Linked DNA regions of Homo sapiens. The protein of the gene in region 1 purifies or fractionates together with the protein of each later gene. This does not show direct contact. Each region holds a gene or a part of one and is shown in the gene's direction. Other genes may lie near its edges. The genes, in order: ARFIP1, AKR1A1, SEC24A, FLNB, HAUS2, LYPLA1 and AACS.

Region 1 (4,554 bases):
AGTGTCAGTATCATATGTGGCTGGTGGCTACTTTATTGGACAGTGCAAATTTAGAACATTTCCAACAACATTGGCCAGCCCTGATAAAACTTTAAAATGCGACATGATATGATGTGATACATAATTCCTATATTGTTGAACCACGAGTTTAAAAATCTGCTACCCATGGTGCCTAGCAGTTTTTGTTTTAGCTGATGAAATGTTATTGCCATGTTCTCTCTCAGCTTTTTGTTTTAACTAAATCCAGATGGTCAAAGTCTAAGTCTAACATTTTTCTTGGATATTTGGGGATTATAGTTAGCTGCTTTTCTAGGATAAAGATGTCAGCTTCATTAAGGGCATGAGTGTTTTCTGTCTGCTTTGAGCTGTAGATCTGTATGTCTTGCTGTCTTGTTGACATCCTTTCTTGAATATCTTAAAGGTATCTCAAATCCAGTATGTCTAAAATGAAACTGATTTCCCCTTCCCTCCCTACAAAACTGCACAACGTTGGTTCTTTCTTTGTTCCTTTTTTCAGTGAATGACACAATTATCTTTTCATTGTAAAATCCAGAAAACTAGAAGTGATCCTTAATTCCCTCTCCCTGATAGATCCAATGATTGAACAAGTTTTTAAAGTCTTACTTTCTACATGACTCTTGAATTTTTCTATTTCTTCCTGTTTCCACTACTGCCACTTCATCTTGCCTGAAACTTTTACAATAGCCTCCATTCTTATCTGTCCTCTCTAATTCATTACCCATCTTGAAGGCACAGTGATTTATTTTGAAACACACATTGGATTATCACTCTCCTTCTTCCTCCCCCAGTGCTTTTATGGCTTTCCATTGCTTCTAGGATCAAAATAAAACTGCTTAACAGCCTTTAGCTCTCCAGACTCATCTTGTACCATGTTCTGCATAACTCTCCAGTTCAACCATGCTGGCCTTCTTTAGTCCTTTGTATGCACCTTGCTCCCTGCCATTTTTGCAAGGCTTTTGTACATGCTTTTCTCTCTGTCTGGACCATTCTTTCTTTACTTTCATTTCATTTCACTTGTTAGTTCCTAGTCATCCTTCACACCTCAGCTGAAGTTTTGCATCCTTAGAGAATATGCTCACTTCCCACATTAAGGTAATAGCATCATACATTTCCCGCAGTTTGCAATTTACATTTATTCATGTGACTGTAAGATTTTCTTTCTGTTCAGTGGCCTATAAACTTCATGAAGGTAAGGTCCATATCTTGTTTTCTTTTTTGGCTCATTTTTGAATCCCTAGAACCTAGCTCAGTACCTGACACCTAAATTTGACTCATTAAATTTCCAAGTTAATGGTATTAAGGATTTCAGTTCATCGAGTTTTGTAATACAAGAATTTGAATATGAATTTTTATAAAAATAGTGTTAAAATGGTAGTACAGTTTGAACATTCCTAATCCAAAAACTTGAAATCCAAAATGCTGCAAAATTCAAAACTTTTTTGAGCCCAACATGATGCTACAAGTACATAATTCTACACCCAACTTTATGTGATGAATCAAAGTCAGAATGCAGGTGTACAACAGTTTCTCCAAGAGAAAAAAGACCTGCCTAGCCCCCTTCAGCTGCCATATATCTTTTCCTCACACAGCCAGATGCACCTACGCAAGCATGCCCGCAAAGGGCAATACAATGCCATGTGTATGTGTAAGAAATGATTGGTTATACGTAGCATATAAATTCAGAGACGGGAATGATAGTGATGTCAAACAACCACAGACTGTCCACATGAGTGGCTGAGATAGTGACACCTTTGCTTTTGGATGGTACAGTGTATACAAACTTTGTTTCATGCAAAAAATTATTAAAAGTATTATATAAAATTACCTTCAAGCTATGTGTATAAGGTGTATATGAAATGTAAATGAATTTTGTGTTTACACTTGGGTCCCTTCCTGAAGATACCTCATTATGCATATGGAAATATTCCAAATGCCAAAAAAATCTGAAATCCAAAACATTTCTAGTCTCAAACATTTTGGAAAAGGGATAATCAACCTGTAATTAAATTTTCAGTTTGACTATTTCTTTCAAGTGTATGGAAATAAATTATTAGGCCGGGCACAGTGGCTCACGCCTGTAATCCCAGCACTTTGGGTGGCCGAGGTGGGTGGATCACTTGAGGTTGGGAGTTCAAGACCAGCCTGGCCAACATGGTGAAACCCTGTCTCTACTAAAAAATATACATATACAGATTAGCTGGGCGTGGTGACCTGCACCTGTAATTCCAGCTACTTGGGAGGTTGAGGTGGAAGATCGTTTGAACCTGGGAGGCAGAGGTTGCAGTGAGCCGAGATCGTGCCTCTGCACTCCAGCCTGGGCGACAGCAAGACTCCGTCTCAAAACAAAAAATGTGTTATTAGTAGCTATATAAAATATAGCAATATAGCACAGTATTCTTACACTATTTTGTAATAGACCCTTTTATTTTTGGATGGTTTTAGTTTTACAGAATTACTGTGAAGATAGAATAGAGCTTCCCATACCCACTTTCCCCTATTATAAGATAGGCTGTGCACAGTGGCTCATGCCAGTAATCCTAGCACTTTGGGAGGTCAAGGCAGGTGGATTGCTTCAGCTCAGGAGTTCAAGACCAGCCTGGGCAACATGGTGAAACCCCATCTCTACCAAAAATACAAAAAATTAGCTGGGCATGGTGGTGCCCATCTGTGATCTCAGCTACTTGGGAGGCTGAGGTGGGAGGATTACTTGAGCCCAGGAGGCGGAGGTTGCAGTGAGCAGAGATTATGCCACGGTACTCCATCCTGGATGACAGAGCGAGACTCCATCTCAAAAAAACAAAAACAAAAACATACTACATTAGCATAGTACATTTGTCACAATTAACCAATATTGGCACGTAATTATTAAAGTCCATATTTTATTCAGATTACCTCACTTTTCCCCAATGTCTTTTTTTTTTTTTTTTTTTTCTGTTCAAGGATCCCATCTAGGATAGCATATTACCTTTAGTGGTCATGTATCCTTTCATTTTGACAGTTTCTCAGATTTCCTTGTTTTTGATGACAAGTTGATAGTTTTGAAGATTACTGCCTGGTCAGGTATTTTGTAGACTGTCCCTCAGTTGGGACTTGTCTGCTGTTTTTCTCATTAGACTGGGTGATATGTTTCTAGGAGGAAGATCACAGAAGTAAAGTGCCATTCCCATCACATCATATCAAGAATACAGACTTTTTTTTTTTTTTTTTTTTTTTTTTTTGAGGTAGAGTCTCACTCTGTTGCCCAGGCTGGAGTGCAGTAACGCAATCTCGGCTCACTGCAACCTCCACCTCCTGGGTTCAAGCGATTTTCCTGTCTCAGCCTCCCAAGTAGCTGGGTCTACAGGTACATGCCACCATGCCCGGCTAATTTTTGTATTTTTAGTAGAGAGAGGTTTCACCATGTTGGCCAGGCTGGTCTTGAACTCCTGACCTCAGGTGATCCACACACCTCAGCCTCCCAAAGTGTTGGGATTACAGGCGTGAGCCACTGTACCTGGCCAAGAATACAAACTATTAATATGACAGTACCATTGATATTAACCTTGACTACTTGGCTTGAGATAATGTTCATCAGTTTTGTCCACTGTAAAGTTACTCTGTTTTCCCCCTCCTTTTGTATATTGTACTTTTTAGAAGAAAGTCTCTCTGTGAAGCACACAATTGGGAATTGGGGAATTATGCTTTACCTCTTTAAGGGTGAAGTGTCTACATAAATTTTTGAAAAATCTTCTATAAGAGTTTTTTGTCTATTCTCCCCTTTCAGTCGTTTATTTATATCAGTCTGACTCATGGATATTTATTTTATACTTAAGGGTAAATCCAGTAGTACTTTATTACTTTGTTGCTCAAATTGTTTCAGCTGTGGCCACTGGGAGCTCTTTTAGTTGGTTCCTGTATTCCTTTGACATACTCCTGTCATTGTGAGACTTTTGTTCTTGTTTTGTTTGTTTGTTTGTTTTTGAGCACTTTTAACTTTCTGGTATTACAAAATGCTCTAGGCTCACCTTGTGTATTACCTACCACAGGCCTAGAATCAGCCTTTTCTCCAAGGAGCACTGATTCCTTCTATTGGAGAATAGTATTAGAAACCAATATCTGGGCACTATGTTTGCTCATTGCTGTTGGAATGTCATTGCTTCTAGGCCCTCCCAGTGGACAGAGTAAGGAAATATATGTGTGTACACTAACTCATGTATATACACATATCTATAAATATTTCTATATGTAACTATATATATGTTAAGCTATATTTTCAGTTTATTTCCTGTGAGCATTTTTCATTAAAAAAATTACCTGTGAATATTGAAGGGGTTTATTTTACATGGTTTTGGGAATTTAGTAACAAAAAGTAACTCTCCAATTATCCATTGCTAAGGGACAAAAGCAGTTCAGATAATACCAAATAACAGGTAACCTGTTTGATCTTTGAATGAAATCAATTACAACAACAGAGATGACCACCTCTCTTGGTTCTTGGTTGGCTTCACTGCTAATGTTCTGGAACTGAGCCATCTATGAAGAATGAGGCCACAG
Region 2 (4,554 bases), on another chromosome or scaffold:
TTGTATTTTTTGGTAGAAATGGGGTTTCACTCTGTTGGCCAGGCTGGTCTCTAACTTTTGACCTCAAGTGATTTGCCTGCCTTGGCCTTCCTATGTGCTTGTATTACAGGTGTGAGGCACAGCGCCCGGTCTAACTTCACTTCTTTGAGCCTATTTTCTCAACTAAAAAATTAAAGATCTGGATATGGTGGCTCATACCTGTAATCCCAGCAACTCAGGGTGCTGAAGTGGCTGGATAGCTTGAGGTCAGAAGTTCAAGACCAGCCTGGGCAACCTAGCCAGAACCATCTCTAAAAAAGTTTAAAAACATCCAGGTGTGCTGGCACAGGCCTGTAGTCCCAGCTACTTGGAAGGGTGAGGCAGGAATATCACTTGAGCTTAGGAGTTCAAGGCTGCAGTGAGCCATGATCACACCACTGTTCTCCAACCTAGGAGACAGAACCAGACCCTGAGTCTAAAAAAGAGTTCCTTTTTTAGGACTCCCTTTACCTCCCTTGCAGGAGCCCACTCGGGCCTACCAGCATGGCTGACCAGACCTCTGTGAAAGGTACTTGGAGAATCTCTGCAGTTCTTTTTTTTTTTTTTTTTTTTGAGACAAAGTCTCGCTCTGTTGCCCAGGCTGGAGTGCAGTGGTGCAATCTAAGCTCACTGCAACCTCCGCCTCCTGGGTTCAAGTGATTCTCCTGCCTCAGCCTCCCAGGTAGCTGGGACTACAGGCACCCGCCACCACGCCTGGCTAATTTTTTGTATTTTTAGTAGAGATGGTCTTTCACTGAGTTAGCCAGGATGGTCTCGATCTCCTGACCTCGTGATCCACCCGCCTCGGCCTCCCAAAGTGCTGGGATTACAGGCGTGAGCCACCGTGCCTGGCCGAGAATCTCTGTAGTTCTGACAACCTCCTGGGAACATTTATTTCATTCTCAGAGAAGTGGCCCCTTCCTGGGCCTATTCAGTTACCTGGTCTCTCTCTCATAATGGCCTTTGCCTGCCTTACACTGGCTTGAGACCTTATTTAGTCAAGACTGGGTGCTTCTGTGTGGCCACCCTGCTTTTGTTTTTAGATAGTGCAGTTCTTTAACAGAGATCTTTAGCCTGCCACAGAGAAGGGCAGCCAGGCTGGTGGTCTGGTTAGTGTTTGTCCAGGAGCTACTGGCCATGGTTGGTTTTGGGCACCCTGTCTCTGCTGCCTTTGCTCACAGGCACATATATAACCACGTGTTTGTCCTACACATCTGTCCCCTCTTCCCGGCCCATGCTTTGTAGTAGTGAGACAGAGTCTTACTCTGTCACCCAGGCTGGAGTGCAGTGGCGCAATCTCAGCTAACTGCAACCTCCACCTCCCAGGTTCAAGTGATTCTTGTGCCTCAGCCCCCCGAGCAGCTGGGACTACAGGTGCGCGCCACCATGCCTAGATAATTTTTGTATTTTTAGTAGAGATGGGGTTTTACCATGTTGACCCAACTGGTCTTGAACTCTTGACCTCAGGTGATCTGCCCGCCTCAGCCTCCCAAAGTGCTGGGATTACAGGTGTGAGCCACTGCACTTGGCGCTTTGCAGTATTCTTGACAGTGGAAATCTGAGACCTGAACAACAGCACTAACCCCAACACCATTCTCTTCCCATCTGTGTTTCAGGGGGCAATGGCGGCTTCCTGTGTTCTACTGCACACTGGGCAGAAGATGCCTCTGATTGGTCTGGGTACCTGGAAGAGTGAGCCTGGTCAGGTGAGGGATGGGGGAAGAAAAAAGAAACTTGTTGAGCCTCTGCCTGCATTTTCCTAGCAGCCCCACCCCCATACTCCCCTTCCAGCGGGGATGAGCCAGTGGGAAGAGATAAGAGAAGACACCAATTATACATCCTGGGCTTCCCCAGCTGACTCAGAGAGTGGGCTGAGGGGCCCAGCAGGGCTGGGGGCATAGGAAGGACATCTTTCTCTAACTGGATCTGCACTGAGTGCTGTGGCAAACATGGGGCCCCTCTGTGCCCATCCCTATGCTATGACCCCTAATATGGCAGTTATCACCCTGTGCTGTGATCATGTCTCCTCTCCCACACTGGGTTCTTTGAGGGCTCAGCCTCTCCCTACTGCTCAGTCCAGAATTAGGCACATAGCAGGTGTCAAGGTTTGAAGAATAACTAGGTGAATTGTATATTGTATAGACCAAAGGTCAGCAAATTTTTTTTTTTTTTTTTTTTTTTTTACTCGAGACAGGGTCTCGCTCTGTTGCCCAGGCTGGAGTGCAGTGGCACAATCTTGGCTCACGGCAGCCTTGACCTCCTGGGCTCAAGTGACCCTCCCACCTCAGCCTCCTGAGTAGCTGGGACCACAGGCACACACTAACACACGGGCCCAGCAAACTTTTTTTTTTTTTTGAAACCGAGTCTCACTCTGTTCCCCAGGCTGGAGTGCAGTGGCGTGATCTTGGCTCACTGCAACCTCTGCCTCATGGGTTCAAGTGATTCTCCTGCCTCAGCCTCCCGAGTAGCTGGGGCTACAGGCATGAGCCACCACACTTGGCTAATTTTTGTATTTTTAGTAGAGACAGGGTTTTACCATGTTGGCAAGGCTGGTCTTGAACTCCTGACCTCAGGAGATCCACCTGCCTTGGCCTCCCAAAGTGCTGGGATTACAGATGTGAGCCACCTTGCCCGGCCACAAACTATTTTTTAAAGAACAAGATAGGGCCAAGTGTGGTGGCTCATACCTGTAATCCCAGCACTTTGGGACGCCAAGGCAGGAAGATTGCTTGAGCCCAGGAATTTGAGACCAGACTGGGCAACACAGTGAGACCCCCGTCTCTACAAAAAATTAAAAAAATTCGAATGCGCCTGTGGTCCCAGCTACTTGAGAGACTGAGTTAGGGGGATTGCTGGAGCCCTGGAAGTCGAGGCTGCAGTGACCTATGATCATGCCACTGCACTCCAGCCTGGACAGAGCGAGACCATCTTAAAAAAAAAAAAGGTAGGCTGGACACTGTGGCTCACGCCTATAATCCCAGCACTTTGGGAGGCCAAGGCAGGTGGATCACAAGGTCAGGAGTTCGAGACCAGCTTGGCCAACGTGGTGAAACCCCGTCTCTACTAAAAATACAAAAATTAGCCAGGCGTGGTGGCACACACCTGTAATCCCAGCTACTTGGGAGGCTGAGGCATTAGAATTGCTTGAACCTGGGAGGCAGAGGTTGCAGTGAGCCAAAATTACGCCACTGCACTCCAGCCTAGGCAACAGAGCAAGACTCCGTCTAGGGGGAAAAATTAAGGAAAAAAAGTTAAAAAACAATTAGATTCTATTGGACAAGTTACAGATGGAGGTGATTATACACTCATGTGACCTTTTAATATGTAACCACTTAAGCTGGGTGTGGTGGCTCATGCCTGTAATCCCAGCACTTTGGGAGGCTGAGGCAGGCGGATCACCTGAGGTTGGGAGTTCGAGACCAGCCTGACCAACACGGAGAAACCTCATCTCTACTAAAAATGCAAAATTAGCCAGGCGTGGTGGTGCATGCCTGTAATCCCAGCTACTCAGGAGTCTGAGGCAGGAGAATCACTTGAATCCGGGAGGCGGAGGTTGCAGTGAGCCGAGATCGTGCCATTGCACTCCAGCCTGGGCAACAAGAGCAAAACTGCGTCCCAAGAAAAATAATAATAAAATAAATAAGTAACCACTTAAAAATATAAATGTAGTTCTTAACTCAAGAACTGTTAAAGTTGATAATTGACTGACCCCTGGTGTAGACCATCCCAGCTGAGGGGAGTCTGGGAATATGGACCTGCTCTCTCAGGGTGGACGTAGCTATGAGATTTGGCTCCTGCCTGGAATGGGGCATTTCCCCAGGGCTTCTTCCTTCTTCCTTGGAAATCTTGAGTCAGAGTGAAGAGAAGTTTGGGGATTAAGTTTCAGAGAAGCCCCAGCAGAGAGAACAGATTCTTCTATCTGGGATTTAGACTGATGTTTGTGGTGTGCTTGGATGACCTGTGTCTCTTTTCCCTTTTGCTTTCTTTCCTATAGCTGCCAAGGAGCCTGGAGCCAGGGTCCCTGTGCTTTAGGCAGGCACTTCTCACAGCCTCGGAGAAGTCCAGGAGCTAGGTCAAGGCAGAGGGTTGGGGGCCACAGACAAGGCCAAGGCGGGGCATGGAACAGCAGGGGTCAGATGTTAGGGGAAGTACGTCGGCACCCGGGTGGGGATCTTGAATACTATGTCAGGCACCCACAACAAGAGCTTTGGGTGCTTTGTGTCTAGGGCCGGGTACCCTTGTTTCTGCTGCTGATGCCGTGTTTCCAGTCTGGATTTTAGCAAAATTAACTGACCCATCCTTCTATCTGATGCCTGTTTTCTTCTCTCTCATTAGGGAGTTCTGGGTCCAGCTTTTAGCCCACTTATCTGCCTCCAGCTTTCAGCCTACTTATCTGCCTTCCTTAATCTTTTCCCCCTTCTAACCTCTTTTGCTGGCCTGTGCTCCCAGAGTTCCCAGAGTCTGTCTACACAACTCCCTGTATGTCCTTGGCCTAGGAATTTTTTCCTGTGTTTCTCTAACCAGCTCCTTAGAACC
Region 3 (4,554 bases), on another chromosome or scaffold:
GATAAATTAAATTTGGTACCTTTAAATTGTATTTAGAATCTTCAGCAAAACTGAACTTTTAAATAATAGACTTTGCAATTTGGGCCATCACCTAAGTTTAATTTAATTCCAGTGTCAACTAGACTTACAAAACAAAAAATAAGTCATTTGATAGTTTAGACTGTTTTACACACAAGCCAAAAAGAGACTATATTTTAGTTATAGGATAACCATCCACTCTATTTCTGCATAGGACTTAGATTTAAATATTTAAATGGGATAAAATTTTGAGACTCTATTGAAATATTTCATCTGTAATCTGATCCAGTATTAAAATGTATACCTTTTAAATCTTTGTTGTTGTTTTCTTCAAAAATAATCATAGCAGCAACTGATACATACTTTTTACTTTGATATAGGTTATTTCGATGCACGCTGACTAGCATTCCTCAGACGCAGGCCTTATTGAATAAAGCCAAACTTCCTTTGGGGCTGCTGCTTCATCCTTTCAAAGACTTAGTGGTATGTTTCTTTTCTTTTCTTTTTTTTTTTTTGAGACGGAGTCTCCCTCTGTCGCCCAGGCTGGAGTGCAGTGACGCAGTCTCAGCTTATTGCAACCTCTGCCCTCCATGTTCAAGTGATTTTCCTGCCTCAGCCTCCCTAGTAGCTGGGATTACAGGTGCCTGCCACCGTGCCTGGCTAATTTTTGTATTTTTAGTAGAGAGGGGGTTTCACCATCTTGGCCAGGCTGGTCTTGAACTCCTGACCTCGTGATCCACCTGCCTTGGCCTCCCAAAGTGCTGGAATTACAGGCGTGAGCCTCTGCGCCCGGCTCTTTTTTTTTTTTTTTTTTTTTTTCTGAGACTGGGTCTCACTGTCGCCCAGGCTGGAGTGTAGTGGCGAGATCTCGGCTCACCGCAATCTCCGCCTCCCAGGTTCGGGCAATTCTCTTGCCTCAGCTTCCTAAGTAGCTGGCATTATAGGCATCTGCCACCACACCCAGCTAATTTTTTTATTTTTAGTAGAGATGGTGTTTCACCATGTTGGCCAGACTGGTCTCGAACTGACCTCAAGTGATCTGCCCACCTCCCAAAGTGCTGGGATTTATAGGCCTGAGCCACTACACCCGGCCTCTTTAGTGAAGGTAAATGTCTTTTGTGCAAAATTATCTTGGTGATGAAAATTTTCTGCAATGATGCAAGAATTACATATAGAATTTGTTTGATCTGTCTTTAGGAAGTCGATGATTGACAGATTACTTACAATTCAACCAAAAATTTTATTACTAAACACTTTCAAATACTAGGTAAAGTAAGTATATTGCTGGAAAATTCAAAAAGTACTGAATAGAATAGAGGTACTGAGAGAAACTAAATAAATGAATCATACTATTTTAATAGGTTGTGAATTATTTACCCATTAAAGTACTTTACCCTAGTCTCCCCGTTCTGCCATCCTTGCAGTAAAATTTGTTATTTTAAAAAGTTGTTTTAAGCCAGACATGGTGGCTCATGGCCTGTAATCCCAGCACTTTTGGAGGCCAAGGTGGGAGAATTGCTTGGGTCTATGAGTTCAAGACCAGCTTAGTCCTGGCTACTCGGGAGGCTAAGGTGGGAGGATCACTTGAGCCCAGGAGGTTGAGGCTGCAGTGAGACATGATTGTACTACTGCACTCCAGCCTGGGTGGCAGAGTGAGACCCTGTATCCAAAAAGAAAAGTTATTTCAGAAGAAAAAAGAAACTGATCTACCTTTGTCCTAAAGCTCTGTGGCCACATACTCTTGAGGATTGCTGACTTTCCCAAAACACACTACTTTTGGTGATAGGATTTTTTTGGTGGTGATATAATTTTATTGCCTGTATTGATTTTTTTTTTTTTTTTTAAGAAGCAGAGTCTTAACTGCATTGCCCAGGATTGGGTATGAGATCCTTATCTTAAAAAAAAAAAATAAAGGCCAGGTGCAGTGGCTCACACCTGTAATCCTAGCACTTTGGGAGGCTGAGGCGGGCAGATCACCTGAGGTCAGGAATTCAAGACCAGCCTGGCCAACGTGGTGAAACTCGTCTCTACCAGAAATAGAAAATTTAGCCAAGCATGGTGATGCACACCTATAATCCCAGCTACTGGGGAGGCTGAGGCAAGGGAATCGCTTGAACCCGGGAGGTGGAGGTTGCAGTGAGCCAAGATCCCACACTGTACTCCAGTCTGGGCAATAGAGTGAGACTGTCTCAAAAAAAAAAAAAAAGATAAATAAAACCTTTCTTTAAAGATGAGATGCTATGTCACTTTGTTGTCCAAGGCACTGGCTCTCAGTTAAGTTGATCAGTGTTCACCTGTCTCAGGGTTTCTGGTAAATCAAAACAAATCTCCCCAAATCTGATAGTCTTACAAAGACCCTTCCCACGTATTTACTGTTATTTATTTATTTATTTATTAGAGACCGGGTCTCTCGTTGTCACCCAGGTTAGAGTGCAGTTCCATGATCATAGCTCACTGCAGCCTTGAACTCTTGGGCTCAAGCAGTCCTCCTGCCTCAGCCTCCAGACAGAGTAAGTGGTACTGTAGGCATTGGCCACTATACCCAGCTAAGACTTTAGAACTTTTAATATGTAGGATAAACTTTAACTAGGAGTGTAATTCCAAAGTTTAACTGGTTATTTAAATTAACCTCACCTTACTTTATTATAGTTGAGAACTAAGTAAGCTTCTTAATGTAACATCAACAAACTTTGTAATAGTTTCATTGGTCATATATTTTAGAATGTTGATTTTTTTTTCTTTGCCATTTATGCCAAAAGTACATTGTAAATTTACCATCTTGGTTTTATTTTTTTAACTTATTATTTATTTATTTAAAAACTCTTTTTTTTTGGTAGAGATGGGCTGTTGCTGTGTTGCTCAGGTTGGTCTCTACCTCCCAGCCTCAAGTGATCCTCCTGCTTTGGCCTTCCAAAGCACTGGGATATATATATATATATTTTTTTAATTTATTTCCAAGATGGAGTCTTGCTCTGTTGCCCAGGCTGGAGTACAGTGGTGTAATCTTGGCTCACTGCAACCTCTGCCTCCCAGGGTTGAAGCAATTCTCCTGCCTCAGCCTCCTGAGTAGCTGGGATTATAGGCACCTGCCACTACGCCTAGCTAATTTTTGTATTTTTAGTATAGACGAGGTTTCACCACGTTGGCCAGGCTGGTCTTGAACTCCTGACCTCGCGTTCCACCCGCCTTGGCCTCCCAAAGTGCTGGGATTACAGGCATGAGCCACCACGCCCAGCCTATTTTTATTTTTAAAATAGAGACAGGGTCTTACTTTCTTGCCCAGGTTGGTCTCAAACTCCTGGCCTCAAGTAATCTTCCTGCCTTGGCCTCCCACCAGAGTGCTGGGATTTTAGACATAGGTGTTAGCCACTGTGCCTGGCCTGCTATTTTGGTTTTGCAATATGAGTGTTTAATGAGGAAAAAAATGGTTTTTACATTTTTATTTTATTTTATTTTTTGAGACTGGGTCTTGCTCTGTTGCCCATGTTGGAGTGCAGTGGCTCAGTCATGGCTCACTGCAGCCTTGACCTCCCAGGCTCAAGTGATGCTCCCACTTCAACCCAGCTCACCACACTGGGCTAATTTTTTAAATCTTTTGAGAGGGTCATGTTTCACTATGTTGCCCAGGCCGGTCTCAAACTCCTGGCCTCAAGCAATCCTTCCGCCTTGGCTCCCAAAGTGCTGGAGTTACACATGTGAGCCACTGTCCCCAGCCAATAATTTTTTTTTTTAAGACAACTTTTAATGAGAATGGTCTTGGAGCAAAATAGTAGGGTTTAAAATTAATACATTTCAACTACATGGTTTTTGTGTATGGCAGTTTAGATACATCTTGTACTCTAAGTTTTCTCTAAAATGATAATATCCCAACAGTTATTTAGACAGGATGGATTCATGCTTATGTTTTCAACATGATGATTTTTGCCTTTAAAAATTTAATTCTGTTTTTTTTTTTCCAGCAATTGCCTGTGGTTACCTCCAGTACAATTGTGAGATGCCGTTCATGCAGGACGTACATCAATCCTTTCGTCAGCTTTCTTGATCAAAGGAGATGGAAGTGTAACTTATGTTATCGAGTCAATGATGGTATGGGATGCTTTTTTGAAACATTTAAACGTTTCTACTTGCATTGTAGGGAAATCAGATGATACAAATGCACAGTTAAAAAAAAAAAACCCTTTTATTTACCTCTAGTCAATCCTTCCACTCAGAGAAAACTACAGGTAACTTTTTTCTGTGCGTTTATATTTATAAATAAATTTAATTATTTATTTTTTAAGCAAAAAATAATGATAGTATTACATGGATATCCCATTTTTACATTGTATTGGGTATATAATAAGTGGTATATTTCATGGTATTACTTAAGCCAGGAATTTAAGAAACATTTTTATTTAGAAATTGTCCCACGCCTTTTCTCTAGGGTGAAAGAAAATAAGTCCACAGAATAGCTGCCCAATTCATTCACTGCTGAATGAAGGGAAGTAGGCAGTGCTAGAAGGTTAGTTGAATGTAGTTTTCTCAGTAATTGAGGAG
Region 4 (4,554 bases), on another chromosome or scaffold:
GAATCAGTCTACATCCGTGACCTCAGAGCCTATGCGCTGAACCCCCGAGCTTGGCCCCCTCTCTAAGTGGCTGGCTCACCCAGAGGCAGTGACTGCATCCCCAGCCCACTTTGGGGATGTCCTAAACCAGGACCCCTGTCCTCCCAGCCACTCAGGAGTACTTTCCAGGCAGCAGTGCTGGCACTTGGGCCCTGACAAGGTACTCACCTTTGAGGGCCCAGGTGGGGTCCTCTCGGCACTTGGAGCGCGTGGCAGGCTTCAGGCCAGGCCTCACAGCAGCTGCTGGGGTCTCCCACACTGGCCAGGAAGCATCTCACCCTCCTGCTGGCTCATGCCGCTGTGCCTGGGCCCTCTCCCATTTCCTTTTGGCTGTTCGCACACCTTTTTGGGAGCTTGGGTTTCAGGCTGTGCTCTGCAAGTGCTGGACGCTGCTGAGAGAAGGAGTTGCTCTTGCAGGGAAGCTCCTAGCCAGGAGGGGAGAGGTACAGAACCGCCTGCTTCAAACCCTGTGTAAATATTGCTCTTGTCACAGGGAAGGCGCCTTGTTTTTCCAGCCCTCCTGCTCCCAAGCCTTTCCCTAAATATCCATTCTGAGATTACACAGCTGCAGTGTGCATGGAATGAAAAGGTATCTGTGCTTGGCCGCCAGAGCGCCCAGTATCCTGACCTTCTGAACAAAGCAAACCTCCCTCTGTTTTTAATGGGTGAGTTTGCTGTATCTCTTGGCTCAAGCTTTAAATGGTCCATTCTGTAGATTTTGGAGTAGGGGAATGTGGAGAATTTGGGGCGGGACCCTGCTGGAGGCGGCTTGAGAGGCTGGGAGATAGACCAGGGAGCTCCAGATTCTTTGGAGCCGCTGAGCAATTTTCCTAATGAAATGGTCCAGGAACCCCAGTGTGCTCGGGGTATACCAGAAGGGCCTCCTTCCTTAACTGCCTTGAAGAACAAGCAGTGCTGCGTTTAACATGCATTAAACTCACAGGAACTGAGCTGGACATATTTGAGGGGGTGGGGGAAGACCGCCACGCCCAGAGATGTTTTGTGGTGTCAGATACAGGTTATAGCTAGAGGCAGTGGTGAGAGACTTCTGCTTGTGGATTTTTTTCCTTCCATCTTCTCTCAGGTAAGTGCTTTAGCTCCAAGTTGGACAGACTTTATGTTTAAATCCCAGTTCTGCTGGTCCCCAGCTGTGTGACTCCAGATGAATTATCTGACTTCACTGTGCCTCTGCTTCCTTTCCTGTAAAACAGGATTAATAACAGGACCCACCTAATAGGCTTGTTTGGAGCTGTAGAGGAGGTAACAGCCAAGTAGTAGCTCTTGTCCCATAACCCCTGCTTTCTCTTTTCCCACCTCGTCTTCCCTGCCCTTTTGGGCCCTCACAGTCAAGATGAACTGATTTTTGGTTGGTCAAAATATTGCATTAGGGCCAAATGGGTGCGGTGGCTCATGCCTGTAATCAAAGCACTTTGGAAGGCCAAGGCAGAAAGATTGTTTGAGGCCAAGAGTTTGAGACCAGCCTGGGTGACATAGTAAAACTCCATCTCTACCAAAAAAAAAAATTTTTAAAGACGAACTTAGGAATGAAACAGCTTGTTAAAAAATGGTGGAACTTTCCCCTGCAGCCACATCATTTCAACTTCACTTTAAAAATATCTTTTTGGCCTGGCACAGTGGCTCACACCTGTAATCCCAGCACTTTGGGAGGTGGAGGTGGGAGGATCACTTGAGCCTAGGAGTTTGAGACCAGCCCAGGCAACACAGCAAAACCCCATCTCTACAAAAAAATTTAAAAATTAGCCAGGCGTGGTGGTGCATGCCTGAAGTCCCAGCTACTTTGGAGGCTGAGGCAGGAGGATGGCTTGAGCCTGGAAGATTGACGCTGTGGTGAGCTGTGATCATGCCACCGTACTCCAGCCTGGGCAACAGAGGAAGACTTTATCTAAAAAAAAAAATATTAGTAATAAGGCCGGGTGCGTTGGCTCATGCCTGTAATCCTAGCACTTTGGGAGACCAAGGTGGGCAGATCACTTGAGGTCAGGAGCTCAAGACCAGCCTGGCCAACATGGTGAGACCCCATCTCTACTAAAGAAATACAAAAATTAGCTGGGCATGGTGGCGAGTGCCTGTAATCCCAGCTAATCAGGAAGCTGAAGCAGGAGAATCGCTTGAACCTGGGAGGCGGAGGTTGCAATAAGCCAAGATCATGGTACTGCACTCCAGCCTGGGCAACAGAGCGAGACTCTATCTCAATCAATCAATCAATAAAATATCTTTCCTTATCATCACCTTACAGCTGCTTCCTGGATGGACACACTGTCTCCTTGTTGCTCACCTCCCGCTTCTTCCCTACGTAGCCCCAGGCCTCAGAGCTGCTGCTTGAGGGGCTTCTTGGCTGCACAGATTAGATACCATGATGAGGTTGAGATAGTGTTGGGGGTGGACCTTGGGGCAGGAGCCTCAAGAGCTTCCAGGAACAGCTGGGTTGTGTTTGAGAGTTGCACGATAGCAGCTCTTTTGTTTTTATTGATATCCAGAACAATAATTCTTTCTCTGGACTAGGAGCTATAATTAAACCAAAATATTTCCCAGCTGGGGCAGTGTCTAGGGCTCTGGCAGAAGCATAGCCCTGCATGGGGATGCTATGCCAGGCATGCCCCATAGAGGGCACTGTAGCAGGCATGCGCCAGACCTGATGACTGAAGGAGGCTCTCCCTGGGCCAGCTAAGTTGTCTCAGGGCTGCAGTTAGGGGATCTGAGGCAGCTCCACTGCCCATCCAGGGGTCAAGAGATGAGCCTGGCACCAGAGCCATGCAGACATGGTTCAAACCCGGCTCTACCACTTTCTGGTTGTGTAGCGTGACTGGCCCCCTCCCTGAGCCGCAGAGTCATTTGTGAAGCAGGAATCACGGAAAGGATTCCATACCACATGCGTAAATGGTGCTGTGCACAGGACCTGGAGCCGGAGTGGGGTACGCATGCCCCGTCAGCGGGAGCTGCTGTTCTGTTCCTGTGCTTGTTGCTGGAATTCACGGCAAAGTGGGTGGGCTGGCAGGTCACAGTGGCTGCACCCGGTCTGCAGCACAGTGCCTGGGGTGAGGGCTGAGGAGGAAGGGAGGAGATGCTTGGCCTCCCTGGCTTCTCCAAGTCTACCCGGAGAAGAAAGGACAGTCAGAGGGGCCCACGCCTCCCCCACACCCCTGGAGGGAGAGCTGGACTCTGGTGGCTGAAGCAGCACTTCAGGCTCACAGTGTGACTCAGGCTTCTTGCCCTCAGCCACAATGGCTCATGCCCAGAGGAGAGAACAGGGTGTCCAGGCTGTTGGTGCTTGTGGGCGAAATGTCAGCCATGCTCCTCCTGCCTTGGCCTAGAAAAGGGAGCCCCCACCCCGCAGGGCCTGAGGTTCTCTCTGCCAGAAGTTCAGAGCTAGTGCCAGTGGGTTCCCATGCCACCAGGGTGAGCCCTCTGTAAGGGGATCTATGTGTGTCCCTCACCACGGCCTCAGTGCTCCCAGGAAAGCCCTCCAAGTCATCAACACAGCATTTTCTATTCCTTTCTCCCAGGTATCCAGTCGGAATTCTTTATTAACACCACCCGAGCAGGTCCAGGGACATTATCCGTCACCATCGAAGGCCCATCCAAGGTTAAAATGGATTGCCAGGAAACACCTGAAGGGTACAAAGTCATGTACACCCCCATGGCTCCTGGTAACTACCTGATCAGCGTCAAATACGGTGGGCCCAACCACATCGTGGGCAGTCCCTTCAAGGCCAAGGTGACAGGTAACGAACAACCACCTTCGGAGTTACTCTCCCTTCCTGGGGAGCTGGTTGTGTCAGATCAATCATAGTGGAAACTATGGATGGTTTTAGATGTGTTAAAGCTACTTTGAACTTTGAATGTCAGTAAATAGTATGAGATGTCAGAGGGCAGTGTTTGAAACTTACAAAAGTCCACAGAGTGGAGCCGTGCAGAAGTTGAGAAAGCATGTTAGGATGTTAGGTGGTTTTCTATCTCTAACAGGAAAGAATACATATTGAAATCTTACGTATTTGTTTAGATCAGGGTCTGAAAAATCCCCTGATTTCTAATTTTCACTTGAAAAATAATCAAAAAGTTTTCCTATACTTATAAAAATGTGTCTCCTCCAAAACACTGGAAAAAATACCAAACTATGAAAACCACTTCACAGCCACCACCCAAGGTAACCACCATAAACACTGTAGTAAATCCCTTCCACACGTCATGATTCACTGTTACATAAAGAATGTAGGTTCATCGCAGGAAAATTAGAAAATTCAGATAGAAAAATCATCCTTTCTCATCCACAGAATCATTTTTTGATATTTCATTATATGTCATCCCAAACTTTTACACTGCTTATACATAGACTATTTTATGTCAATAGAAAGATGTGAATTCCACAGGCACATCTTTGGTGGGTAGGGGGTGGGGGGATTGGGAGGGTCCTTGGCCTTGTCAGCCAAGGCCAGACTCATCCATTTGCCCAGAAAGCCAGATCCTAGTTGTATGGGGGTGGGATCCTAGGGGTTT
Region 5 (3,383 bases), on another chromosome or scaffold:
GCCAGGCATGGTAGCATGTGCCTGTAATCCCAGCTACTCAGGAGGCTGAGGCAGGAGAATCACTTGAACCCAGGAGGCAGAGGTTGCAGTGAGCCCAGATCGTGCCACCGCACTCTAGCCTGGGCAACAGAGCAAGACTCTGTCTTAAAAAAAAAAAAAAAAGGTGTTTCTGAATTAGAAGGGTCTTCTTGAATCTGAAAATGTCTATGATGATTATTCCTGTGGGAATGTCACTAAGTATGCAGAAAAGAGTAACACAGCCAGCCTGACTTATCCTTTGAAAGGCCTGATTATAAGGTTTGTCCTCAGCTGTTGCATCTGGGAACTTAGATATCAGAAGGTATCTTAGTCTGTTCTGCTGTCATAACAGAATTACACAAACTAAGTATTTTATAATGAACAGAAGTTTATTTGGTTGACAGGTGTGGAGGCTAGGCAGTCCAAGAACATGGTGCCAGCATCTAGTGAGGGTCTTGCCATGGCAGAAGGCACCACATGGCAAGTGAGCATGAGAAAGATATATGGGTCTAAACTTAGCCTTTTATCATGAGCCCACTCCCAAGATAGCAGCACTAATTCATTAATGAGGGCAAAGCCCTCCTTACCTAATTACTTTTTAAAGGTCTCATAACACTTTTACAATGTCAATTAAATTTCCAACACTTGAACTTTGGGGGACATATTTAAACCTTAACAGGAGGGCTCCACTCACTGAAAAGAGTCGTTCATGGTAGCTAACCTGTGGTTTGTGCTGAAAACCTGCTTTCTTCCTGGGAGTCTAGAATTTTGGTACATGGTAGGTAGAAGGTACCTACGTGACCAGCCCCCAGTAAAAACCCTGGGCACTGTATCTCTAACAAGTTTCCCTGGTAAACAACATTTCTCACATGTTGTCACAATTCAGTTGCTGGTGGAATGAAACAACAGATATGTGTGACTCCACTGTTAGAGGACTCTGGAAGCTTATACCTGGTTTCCCCCAGACTTTGCCTCTGTACCTTTTCTCTTTGCTGTTTTGCTTCATATGCTTTTGCTGTAATAAATCATAGCTGTGTGATGATATGCTGAGTCTTGTGAATTCTCCTAGCAAATCATGGAACCTGGAGGTAGTCTTGGAGACCCTGGCATACAAAGCAGTTCCTAAGTGTTTACTGGTAGCTGTAGGAATAGGCAAAGAAGAAACAGCAAAGAAAAAGGCACACTGTGGTATAACTTTGGAGGTTTACCTTGCAAAATGCTCAGATATTTTACCTATCAGAGGTTATTGTGCATATAATAGAGAGTGATATACTAACAACTGCCTCAGGATATACTCTTTTTAATCAGTATTGTAACTAACCTTGGCTTATTTTACTTTTAGACTTGGGGTTCTATTTTGCTTTAAAACATGTACATCAGTTTTGTTTTTTGTTTTGTTCTTTTCTTTCCTTTTTTTTTTTTTTTTTTTAAAGACAGGATCTCACTCTGTCACCCAGGTTGCTGAGAGTGTGGTGTGGCCCAATCTTGACCTCACTGCAGCCTTGACCTCTCAGGCTCAAGTGATCCTCCCACCTCAGCCTCCCAAGTAGCTGGGACTATAGGCACGCGCCACCACGCCTGGCTAATTTTTGTATTTTCTGTAGAGACAGAGTTTTGCCATGTTGTTGAGGCTGGTCTTGAACTCCTGGGTTCAAACGACCCTCCCGCCTCAGCCTCCGAAAGTGCTGGGAGTACAGGTGTTAGCCACTGCGCCTGGCCTCATTGTACTCCTTAACACAAGAAGACTTCAACAATGATAAGTAGTTGTTTATAAGGAAGCAGGATCATTACCAAAATAAATCCTGCTAAAACAACAGGAATCATGTTTTAAAGCCTAGTTTGCTAATTTTTGCTAGTAGGATAAGAGTGATCGTAATATCTCGAACATTACATAGACACTTAAAACCTTTAGTTGTATTTCATCAAAAATCTGTTCATACCCCACGTTGGTTTCAAAACATACTATGCTTTTTCTTCGTGTTATTTCCTATATTCATTTTTGTGTGTATGTGTATGTCACAAATATTGATATGCCTGGTTGTTTATTTTTGTTTTCTATTATGCCTTTTTCAAAATATAAAAATAAACTTGTAATTTCTAACTAAAATTTTTTAGTCCTAGTCTGAATTTAAAGTGATAGAAAGGACTGATGCACTGTTTAACTTATACAGTATAGGCATATAGGCTCTCAGAATCAAAAGAGCTTGAGGTAAGTTAAGCCTGAGGTCTACTTCAAAGAGAAAGCTAATTTAATACTCTTCCAGAGTCAATCAGTGCTGATTAATTTTTCTTTAATTATTCAACTTTTAGATGTGTGGATATTAAAAAAAAATTAGCTCTGCATGCCTTTTTTTGTTGTTGTTGTTGTTCTTGTTTTTTAGATGGTCTTGCTCTCACCCAGGCTGGAGTGCAGTGGCACAATCATAGCCCACTGCACTCTGAACCTCCTGGGCTCAATGGATCCTTCCACCTCAGCCTCCCAAGTAGCTGGGACTACAACTGTGCCCCACCACACCCAGCTAACTTTTAAATTTTTTTGTTGAGATGAGGTCTCGTCGTGTTGCCCAGGCTGGTCTTGAACTCCTGGGTTCAAGCAATCTTGGCCTCCCAAAGTGCTGGGATTACAGGTGTTAGCCCCTTGCACCTAGCCTGAATGTCTGTGTTTCCTACTTACACTAGAAGAGGTGTGTGAGATTTGCAAATTTATTGCCAGCATAACAGTGATGCCAGTTTGTGAAGACCATTCTGGAGGAATTGAGATGCTGCCTGGTTTTCCTAGCATTTTTCTTATTTTCTTTCTTTCTCTATGTGACTCTACCAGTCTGACCCCTGATTTATCCTCTGAAACCCTCAATGAAGTCAGGAACAGTCTGAGGAATAGCAGAACCTAAAAGATTTCTTGACATGCAAAATCTATAATAGAGTTGAGATTTTAATAAGACTGTAATTAGTGTATTGTGGGATTTCTTCACATATCTGTAAAACACATGAATTTACATAAAAGATTTATCTCACAATTTGGGGAATCCACTAATTGAGTTTACTAAAAAAATTATGCATTAGACCCTTGAACAATATAAGCTTGAAGTGCATATGCAATTTTTTTTTTTTTTTTGAGACAGGGTCTCACTGTCACCAGGCTGGAGTGCAGTAGTGTCATCTCAGCTCACTGCAACCTCCGCCTCCTGGGTTTGAGCAATTCTCCTGCCTCGGCCTCCCAAGTAGCTGGGATTACAGGTGCACACCACCATGCCCGGCTAATTTTTGTATTTTTAGTAGAGACAGGGTTTCACCATGTTGGCCAGGATGGTCTCGATCTTTTGACCTCGTGATCCACCCACCTCGGCCTCCCAAAATGCTGGGAT
Region 6 (4,554 bases), on another chromosome or scaffold:
AATCCCAGTTACTCAGGAGGCTGAGGCAGGAGAATCGCTTGAACCCAGTAGGTGGAGGTTGCAGTGAGCTGAGGTTGTGCCATTGCACTCCAGCCTGGGTGACAGAGGGAGACTGTGTCTCAAAAAAAAAAAAAAAAAAAAAGGAAGAAAAAAGTTGTTAATGTTAGTGCGGTAATAATAACACGTGCCACTGATTGAGCACATAACTGTTTACAAGCTAGGTGTTTCTTACAGGGCACCTCATTTGACACCGCTGTGAAGTATTAGCTCTGCTTTACAAAACCTCGAAAGCCTGGTCTCTGGTTAGGAGTCCATCTCCTTTATGATTATGGTAATTCTAGTTGTTCGGAGGGAGAAACAGAATACTAACTTACTGGGACGTGTCTATTTTTAACAAATGCACAGGAGGCCGGGCACGGTGGCTCACACCTGTAATCCCAGCACTTTGGGAGGCTGAGGCAGGCGGATCGCCTGAGGTCGAGAGTTCGAGATCAGGCTGACCAACATGGAGAAACCCCGTCTCTATTATAAATACAAAATTAGCCGGGCATGGTAGCGCCTGCCCGTAATCCCAGCTACTTGGGAGGCTGAGCCAGGAGAATTGTTTGAACCTGGGAGGCAGAGGCTACAGTGAGCTGAGATCCCACTGTTGCACTCCAGCCTGGGCAACAAGAGTGAAACTCCGTCTCAGGAAAAAAAGAAAGAAAGAAATGCACAGGTGCACAGGAATGTGCTTTTCTTTTACATATGTGTACTGAAATATTGACAAGTATAATAATGTGAGGACTGGGATTGCCTTCAGGAAAATCTGGTTGGTGACTCTTGAGTGTGGGTGGGTGTAGGTGGGTGTGGGCAGCAATGGCAAGGCAGGCTGGCTGTGAATTGTTTTGCTTTTTGGTAATTTTTTATTTACATAGTTACTTAGAGACTGTCGCCCAGGTTAGAGTACAGTTGGTGATCATATCTCACTGCAGCCTCAAATTCCTGGTCTCCAGCAACTCTCCCGCCTCAGCTTCTGAGTAGCTGGGACTACAGGCATGTGCCACCATGCCTGGCTAATTTTTAAACTGTTTTGTAGAGATGAATTCTCATTATGTTGTCCAGGCTGGTGGGAAACTCTTGCCCTCAGGTGATCCTCCCCAAAAGTACTGGGATTACAGGCATGAGCCACTGAGCGCAGCCCTTTTGTTTTAAAAGAACTCTTTAAGGTCTTTAAAACAGGGAAAATGGCCGGGCGCGGTGGCTCACGCCTGTAATCCCAGCACTTTGGGAGGCCGAGGCGGGTGGATCATGAGGTCAGGAGATCGAGACCATCCTGGCTAACAAGGTGAAACCCCGTCTCTACTAAAAATACAAAAAATTAGCCGGGCGCGGTGGCGGGCGCCTGTAGTCCCAGCTACTCGGGAGGCTGAGGCAGGAGAATGGCGTGAACCCGGGAAGCGGAGCTTGCAGTGAGCCGAGATTGCGCCACTGCAGTCCGCAGTCCGGCCTGGGCAACAGAGCGAGACTCCGTCTCAAAAAAAAAAAAAAAACAGGGAAAATACATTCAAAAGATGTGAGATATTTGGGAATGTCAAACCAACAACACTGACTTATGGGATCATTAAAAAGTAGATTAGAGTTAGAATCCTAGAGTTGGGATTTTGTCTGAAAATAATAGATGACAAAAGTATGAGGGTAAGTGTTAGATGCTATGGAAAACAGGGAGGGCCTGGGCCCTGTGAAGAAGATACGTGGGCCTCATGAGGTCCAGAATGAAAGATTCTGTCCTAACAATAGAGTTGGCCTATGAAATACTTGTTACTTCTTTCCTCTCTGAAAATTCCTCTCAGAGAAAATTAGAATCAGACTCAGCCAGGAAAGAAAAAACAAAAGAGAATGTGCTACTGAACAAAGAAGACAGTGCTCAGGTTACATAGTTGGGGGTACATAGTGCCCTTACCCTTAGGTGAAAGGTGATTGAGGCCAAGGGATGTTGCTCATACCTGTAATCCTAGCACTTTGAGAGGCTGAGGCAGGAGGATCACTTGAGCCCAGGGGTTCAAAACCAGCCTGGGCAAGAGTCGCTACAAAAAAAAAAACAAAATTAGCTGGGCGTGGTGGCGCATGTCTGTGGCCCCCTCAGCTGCTTGAGAGTCTGAGGTGGGAGGATTGCTTGAGCCTGAGAGGTCAGCAACAGAGTGAGACCCTGTTTTGAGAGAGAGAGAGAGAGAGACAGAGACAGAGACACAGAGAGAGAGTGTGAGCGAGCAAAAGAGATTTATTCTGGTTTTTTTTTGTTTGTTTTTGAGATGGAGTCTTGCTCTCTTGCTCAGGCTGGAGTGCAGTGGCGCAATCTCAGCTCACTGCAACCTCCACCTCCTGGGTTCAAGTTATTCTCCTGTCTCAGCCTCCCAAGTAGCTAGGACTACAGGCCTGTGCCACCATGCCCGGCTACGTTTTGTATTTTTAGTACAGACGGTGTTTCACCATGTTGGCCAGGCTGGTCTCAAACTCCTGGCCTCAAGTTGATCTGCTGGCCTCAGCCTTCCAAAGTGCTGGGATTACAGGCGTGAGCCACTGTGCCTGGCCAATTCTGTGATTTTTTTTAAAAAACAATAGAATGAATGGTTTTAAACACTTTTTAAACCATTAACTTAACTACGTACAACACTTAACTACGTACAATTTTAAACACTTAACTACGTACAATTTTAAAATGACAACTTTTAGGTACAAATGCCTATGGTTCATTGAAGAGAGAAACATGGAATATATATGAGCAGAATTAACTATTAATTTTTTAAAAATCCATCTCTTGATGAGAGAAAGAACTGTTGTTAACAAAATATTTAATGGGAAATTATTGAAGTTTTAATTAAAATTTTATTTTTTTATTTTCAATTTTTGTGAGTACATAGGTGTACATATTTATATGTACGTGAGATGTTTTGATACAGGGATGCAATGTGAAATAAGCACATCATGGAGAATGGGGTGTCCATCCCCTCAAGCGTTTATCCTTTGAGTTACAAAGAATCCATTTACACTCTTGTAAGTTATTTTAAAATGTACACTAAGTTACTATTGACTATAGTCACCCTATTGTACTGTCAAATGGTAGGTCTTATTCTATTTTTTTTGTACCCATTAACTAGCTACACCTCACCTCCAGCCCCCTTCTACCCTTCCAGCCTCTGATAACCATACTTCTACTACTGTCTGTGTCTGTTAGTTCAGTTAGTTTTAGATCCCACAAAAAAGTGAGAACATGCAATGTTTGTCTTTCTGTGTCTGGCTTATTTCCCTTAACATAATGATCTCCAGTTCCACTTGTGTTGTTGCAAATGACTGGATCTCATTCTTTTTTTATGGCTGAATAGTACTTCATTGTGCATATGTACCACATTTTCTTCATCCAGTCATCTGTTGATGGACACATAGGTTACTTCCAAATCTTGGCTATTGGGAACAGTGCTACAACAAACATGGGAGTACAGATATCTCTTCAATATACTGATTTCCTTTCTTTTGGGTATATATCCCAAAAGATATATACCCAAATATAGTTAAAAGAAAGATACTTTCTTTTGAGTATATATCCAGTGGGATTGCTGGTTCATATGGTAGCTCAATTTTTAGTTATTTGAGGAACCTCCAAACTGTTCCCCATAGTAGTTGTACTAATTTACATTCCCACCAACAGTGTATGAGGGTTCTCTTTTCTCCACATCCTTGCCAGCATTTGCTATTAACTGTCTTTTGAATAAAAACCATTTTAACTGGGGTGAGACGATATTTCATTGTAGTTTTGATTTGCATTTTGCTGGCGATCAGTGATGTTGGGCACCTTTTCATATGCCTGTTTGCCATTTTTATGTCATCTTTTCGGAAATGTCTATTCAGATCTTTGGCCCGTTTTTTTTGTTCTTGTTTGTTTTGAGACAGAGTCTTGCTCTTTCGCCAGGCTGGGGTGCAGTGGTGCAATCTTGGCTCACTGCAACCTCCGTCTCCCGAGTTCAAGTGATTCTCCTGCCTCAGCCTCCCAAGTAGCTGCGACTACAGGTGCGCACCACCATGCCCAGCTAATTTTTTAATCTGTAGTAGATACGGGGTTTCACCACGTTGGGCAGGATGGTCTTGATCACTTGACCTCGTAACCCACCCTCCTCGGTCTCCCAAAGTGCTGGGATTGCAGGCATGAGCCACTGTGCCCGGCCTGGCCCATTTTTTGATCAGATTATTAGATTTTTTTCCTATAGAGTTGTTAAAGCTCCTTATATATTCTGGTTATTAATCCCTTCTCAGATGGGTAGTTTCCAAATATTTTCTCCCATTCTGTGGGTTGTCTCCTCACTTTGTTGATTGTATCCTTTGCTGTGCAGAAGCTTTTTAACTTGATGTGATCCCATTTGTCCATTTTTGCTTTGGTTGATATGCTTGTGGGGTATTTCTCAAGAAATTTTTGCCCAGACCAATGTCCTGGAGATTTTCCCCAATTTTTTCTCGTAGTAGTTTCATAGTTTGAGATCTTAGATTTAAGTGTTTATTGTGATTTGATTTTTGTATACAGCA
Region 7 (4,554 bases), on another chromosome or scaffold:
ACTGCAGCCTGGGCGACAGAGTAAGACTCTGTCTCAAATAAATAAAAGTTGGGAGACCATATATGAAAAGCAAGCTTTCCAACCTCTGAGATCCCCAAGGCCTGTCATGCTGGGTCTGCATTCCCAACGTGGCAGCATTGTCCGGAGCTGAGTGAGGCCCCTCCCTTTAGTTTGGAGGAGGGCATTTAGCACTGTTTTTGTCCTTTTCTCCTCTTACCACTCTTGAAGGTGATTTCCACCTGACTCTCCCCTTTCATATTCCTGGCCCTGGAGGCTTTGGGCTTTGCTTGAAGATCCAGCTCAAATGCTATCTTCTTTTTGATTATTCTCTTTGAATATTTCTGCCTTCCCTCTTCTCTCCAAGCACATGTAATTTGGGCTTTCATTCTGCCCTGCCTTTTTGTGTATTTGTGAGCATTCTTTTTTTTTTTTTTGAGATGGAGTCTCGCTCTGTCACCCAGGCTGGAGTGTGGTGGCGCGATCTCGGCTTACTGCAACCTCCGCCTCCCGGGTTCAAGCAGTTCTCCTGCCTCAGCCTCCTGATTAGCTGGGATTACAGGCATGCAACACCAAGCCCGGCTAATTTTTTTGTATTTTTAGTAGACACGGGGGTTTCACCATATTGGCCAGGCTGGTCTCGAACTCCTGACCTTGTGATCCACCCACCTCGACCTCCCAAAGTGCTGGGATTACAGGCGTGAGCCACCGCGCCCGGCTGTGAGCATTCTTATTGCTTAAAGACAGTGCCCGCGAACTCGTATCCTCTCCTCTGTGTCCCAGCAGAGGCTCACTTGTAGCCTGTATACAGTATGGGGCCATGCTTTGGACTGGATGTCAGTAGAGAGCAAGGCACACATCCTCAGCAGCCTTGCTCCCGCCCTGCAGGCTTCAGGGAGGAAGGCAGGGGCATTCCCCACTCCGGCCGCCTCTCCGTGAGCCCGTCTTCCCAGACCAAGGTTGGCAGGACGTTTCTATCCCTGCATTTTGGGAGGCTCTGGTAGGGTTACCCACCCTCTTTTCCACTGCCATAACCACAGGTTGGTTGGTTCTTGTCACTGCTTCCAGCTGAAGCCACCTGTGCACTCCCTGCACATCCACGTGGGGCTCTGGGGTCCTCTGATGCAGACTTCCTTGGGGTCGGCTGCAGCTCCAGCCTGGCATATGTGCCTGTGATTCCAGGCCTCTAGCAAGCTCTGGCAGACATGCTGCATGTACTAGCCCTCTGTAATTAGGAGGCAGGGAGGTGGCACCAGTTTCAAAGGCATGCTCTTTTGGAGGACTGTGCCAAGTGTCCTTCTGTGTACCACAAGCTGCACGTCGGCTCTCTGTGCAAGCAGCTGGGATGGAGTTTGCCAACAAATAGAAGGCTTGGGCCCTGTTCTCAAATAGCTCCGGGTGGCTAGGGGAGAGAGCTCATGTGAAGATAGTGCCACACGTTAGTGGACGCTGGGCATTCCACGAATGGGGCATTGGTGTTGACATTCTGAGTACTGCACTGTTGTATGACAGATGCAGCTGACGGCTGTAACTTCAGAAGAATGTGTGTTCAGAGTTCCAAGCTAAGGAATCCAGGAGTGGCCAACCCGGATTTATTCCTTGTCTATGAGGAACATCTGAACCCCCGGCCCATCCCATGGAATGCAAGCTCTACAGGGGGATTGAGGCCCTTTCTTTTGGATTAAGTAAAGGTTACCAGGTGGAAGTTGCTAGGGGAGGGTGCTGAGTGAAGGTGCTGTATAAACTGCGTGCATTTTACAAGCGGTTGCGGTTCTCCTGTCCAGCCTGCTGCCCCCAGACCATCCCTGTAGGTAAGTTTCCAATAAACCCTGTGTCTGGCTCACTGCTTCCAGATCTCTGGAATCTGGTGCCATCTATTGGAGTTAACAGGGGTCCAGCACAACAGCAGTGCGCTGGGTTTAGCAGAGAATGCGGTTTAGAAGGGCGGATAGCCTGTAATCTCAGCTACTTGGGCAGCAGGGGCAAGAGGATTGCTTGAGTCCAGGAGTTAGAGGCTGCAGTGAGCTATGATCATGCCACTGCACTCCAGCCTGGGCAGAAGAGTAAGATCCTGTCTCTAAGAAAATGAATAATAAAAAAGAGGCAGATAAAATCTTCAGCTAAGATTTGAAGGTGTGGGCTGGCCAAGATTCTCGTAGGTGGAGAGGAAGAAGGGCTGAAAATTCAGAAGCCTGTAGGGACCAGACAGGTGCCCAAGATAATAATAGTTACTATTCAGTGAGCTCTCTCTGTATGTCGGGCTCCATCTGGCACCTGATATGTATCAACTAATGTAATCCTCTCAGTAATCCTACCAAGTAGGTGGTAGTAGTAGCCCCATTTCACAGCTGAACAAACCAAGGCACGAAGTCTCAGTTAAGACTTTGTAGCTGTAGGCAGTGGAGCTGTAGTCTGCCGTCTGGTTAGTTGTTGCCTCTGGCATTTGCCTGAGGGCCCGATGAGGCAGCTGTTCCCAGTTCTAGCTAATCCTCACTGTGTGGTGTGGACAATGCATTTGTTACCTATTGCTGGTGACAAATCAGCCCAAAAGTTAGCGACTTAAAACAAGAATAAACCTTTATCACCTCTGAGTTTCTGTGGGTCAGGACTGGGGAGTGGCTAGTTGGGTGGTTCTGGCTCAGGGTCCCTGAGGGGCTGCAGTGGGAACGCACCCGTCCCCAAGAGCTCACTCACATGGCGGTAAGTTAGTGCTGGTGGTGGCAGCAAGGTAGTGCAGGAGACATCTGCCATATGCCACCTAGGACTGCGTGAGCATCCTCACTGGCTTCTCCTGGAGCAGGTGACCCAAGAGAGCCATGTGGCTGCAGTGACCGTTACAACCTGGCCTTGGAACTCACGTTTGGCCACTTCCACAATACCCTGTTGGTGACACAGATCAGCCCTCTCAGGTTGGAAAGGGGACCATAGAGGGCCATGAATGCCTGGAGGTGACAATTACTGGCTGATGACCACAGTCAGGTACTCACTTTTCTCAGGAGAAGCCGGAGTTTCATTTAAAAATGGATTTATGTGCTTGCTTTGGCAGCACATATACTAGGTAGAAAAATTTGCATGATCCCTGCACAAGGTGGAGATGCAAATTCACGAAGTAGCCCATAAAAAAGCAACAACAGGCTTTTAAGTGTGAGCAGCTTGCACAGGCTGAATCAGACCTGGGCTTGCGGTTGCAGCGTCCTCCCTGGTAGAGGCGGGGAGCGTGGGAGCAGAAGAGTGTGTCTGAAGAGTCGCATTTGATGAGAGGGCTGAGTTGCTGACAGTGGGAAAGTTTCCACCTGAAGTCGGCCGCTTTTGCTGTCGTCTCCCAGGGTCCTTGTGGTGTCAAGAGGCCATTGTGGCTGCATCCTTCCAGATTCATGGGGCTGGCCGCGTCTGCCTTCCTTAGTGATGCTGTTGGCGAATGCACTTTTGTGATACTTTTTTTTGGTTGTTGTTGTTGACAGAGTTTCGCTCTTGTTGCCCAGGCTGGAGTGCAGTGGCACGATCTCGGCTCACTGCAACCTCTACCTCCTGTGTTCAAGAGATTCTCCTGCCTCAGCCTGCCAGGTAGCTGGGATTATAGGCATGCACCACCACACCTAGCTAATTTTTTGTATTTAGTAGAGATGGGATTTCACCATGTTGGTCAGGCTGGTCTCAAACTCCTGACCTCAAGCAATCCACCCATCTCGGCCTCCCAAAGGGTTGGGATTACAGGCGTGAGCCACCGCTCCTGGCGCTTTTTTTTTTTTTTTAAATGGGGTCTCACTCTGTCGCCCACCCAGGCTGGAGTGCAGTGGTGGGATCATAGCTCACTGCAGACTTGAGCTTCTGGGCTAAAGCGATCCTCTCAGCTGTCCCTGCCCCAGTTCTTGTGATCCCTCCTTGTCCAACATAACTGAGGACCATTCCTGGACACCACAGTCAGAGGGGACACTGCTGAAGGGCAGGGAGCATCGTGTCTCTTCTTGTCTTCCCCACCGGGGCTGGGAACAGTGAGGATGGGCAAGCTTGACTTCACTGATGGCAGTGAGATAATTCAGCTCAGCGGTTGTATTATACCTTTTCCCCCATTCCTGATACCCCATTGGCCATCTTCCTGTTATGTTATTATATCCTTGCCAGTCTCTGCCTTCCTGGAGCCCTAGCAAGGCTGTGCTTTGAAACAGAAGCACTGTATGGCTTCCCTTGGTCCCCGATAGGATAAAATTCTCCTGTCCCTAAGGACTGATTGGCTCACTGTGGCCAATCCACTTGGATCCTAGGCAGTTGAGAGGGTAAAGAGTCCTCAGCGAGGCTGGGGTTAGTTTTTCAGTGAAGTCACATTTCCTTTAGGAGTTAAATACATCTCTTTGTGTCAAGTTTCCAGCTCATGTCTTGATGGTGGGGAAAAGTTATTTTGAGTATAACTGAGTGGAATCTGCAAGGGGGAACTCCCCTGGGCATAAAAGTTAGACTGTTGTGGAATAAAAGGAGGGAGACCTTTTACCATGTAACTTTTGTTTTTTTTTTTTTTTTTTTTTTTTTTGAGATGGAGTTTCGCTCTGTTGCCCAGGCTAG

The links.
Region 2: the proteins of ARFIP1 (region 1) and AKR1A1 fractionate together in Homo sapiens (co-fractionation; one large-scale study listed by BioGRID). This does not show direct contact.
Region 3: the proteins of ARFIP1 (region 1) and SEC24A fractionate together in Homo sapiens (co-fractionation; one large-scale study listed by BioGRID). This does not show direct contact.
Region 4: the proteins of ARFIP1 (region 1) and FLNB fractionate together in Homo sapiens (co-fractionation; one large-scale study listed by BioGRID). This does not show direct contact.
Region 5: the proteins of ARFIP1 (region 1) and HAUS2 purify together in Homo sapiens (affinity purification with mass spectrometry; one large-scale study listed by BioGRID and IntAct). This does not show direct contact.
Region 6: the proteins of ARFIP1 (region 1) and LYPLA1 fractionate together in Homo sapiens (co-fractionation; one large-scale study listed by BioGRID). This does not show direct contact.
Region 7: the proteins of ARFIP1 (region 1) and AACS fractionate together in Homo sapiens (co-fractionation; one large-scale study listed by BioGRID). This does not show direct contact.

What each region holds. Positions count from the first base shown.
Region 1 is NC_000004.12:152,785,870-152,790,423, forward strand, and holds part of ARFIP1 (arfaptin-1), read left to right. Parts: intron 1-4,554. UniProt on the Homo sapiens protein: Plays a role in controlling biogenesis of secretory granules at the trans-Golgi network. Mechanistically, binds ARF-GTP at the neck of a growing secretory granule precursor and forms a protective scaffold.
Region 2 is NC_000001.11:45,560,155-45,564,708, forward strand, and holds part of AKR1A1 (aldo-keto reductase family 1 member A1), read left to right. Parts: intron 1-1,634; 5' UTR 1,635-1,640; coding exon 1,641-1,724; intron 1,725-4,554. UniProt on the Homo sapiens protein: Catalyzes the NADPH-dependent reduction of a wide variety of carbonyl-containing compounds to their corresponding alcohols.
Region 3 is NC_000005.10:134,675,625-134,680,178, forward strand, and holds part of SEC24A (protein transport protein Sec24A), read left to right. Parts: intron 1-398; coding exon 399-501; intron 502-3,977; coding exon 3,978-4,104; intron 4,105-4,554. UniProt on the Homo sapiens protein: Component of the coat protein complex II (COPII) which promotes the formation of transport vesicles from the endoplasmic reticulum (ER).
Region 4 is NC_000003.12:58,164,877-58,169,430, forward strand, and holds part of FLNB (filamin-B), read left to right. Parts: exon of another isoform or gene 1-1,239; intron 1,240-3,563; coding exon 3,564-3,782; intron 3,783-4,554. UniProt on the Homo sapiens protein: Connects cell membrane constituents to the actin cytoskeleton. May promote orthogonal branching of actin filaments and links actin filaments to membrane glycoproteins. Anchors various transmembrane proteins to the actin cytoskeleton.
Region 5 is NC_000015.10:42,567,870-42,571,252, forward strand, and holds the end of HAUS2 (HAUS augmin-like complex subunit 2), read left to right. Parts: 3' UTR 1-2,125; downstream 2,126-3,383.
Region 6 is NC_000008.11:54,056,278-54,060,831, reverse strand, and holds part of LYPLA1 (acyl-protein thioesterase 1), read left to right. Parts: intron 1-4,554. UniProt on the Homo sapiens protein: Acts as an acyl-protein thioesterase. Hydrolyzes fatty acids from S-acylated cysteine residues in proteins such as trimeric G alpha proteins or HRAS.
Region 7 is NC_000012.12:125,068,424-125,072,977, forward strand, and holds part of AACS (acetoacetyl-CoA synthetase), read left to right. Parts: intron 1-4,554.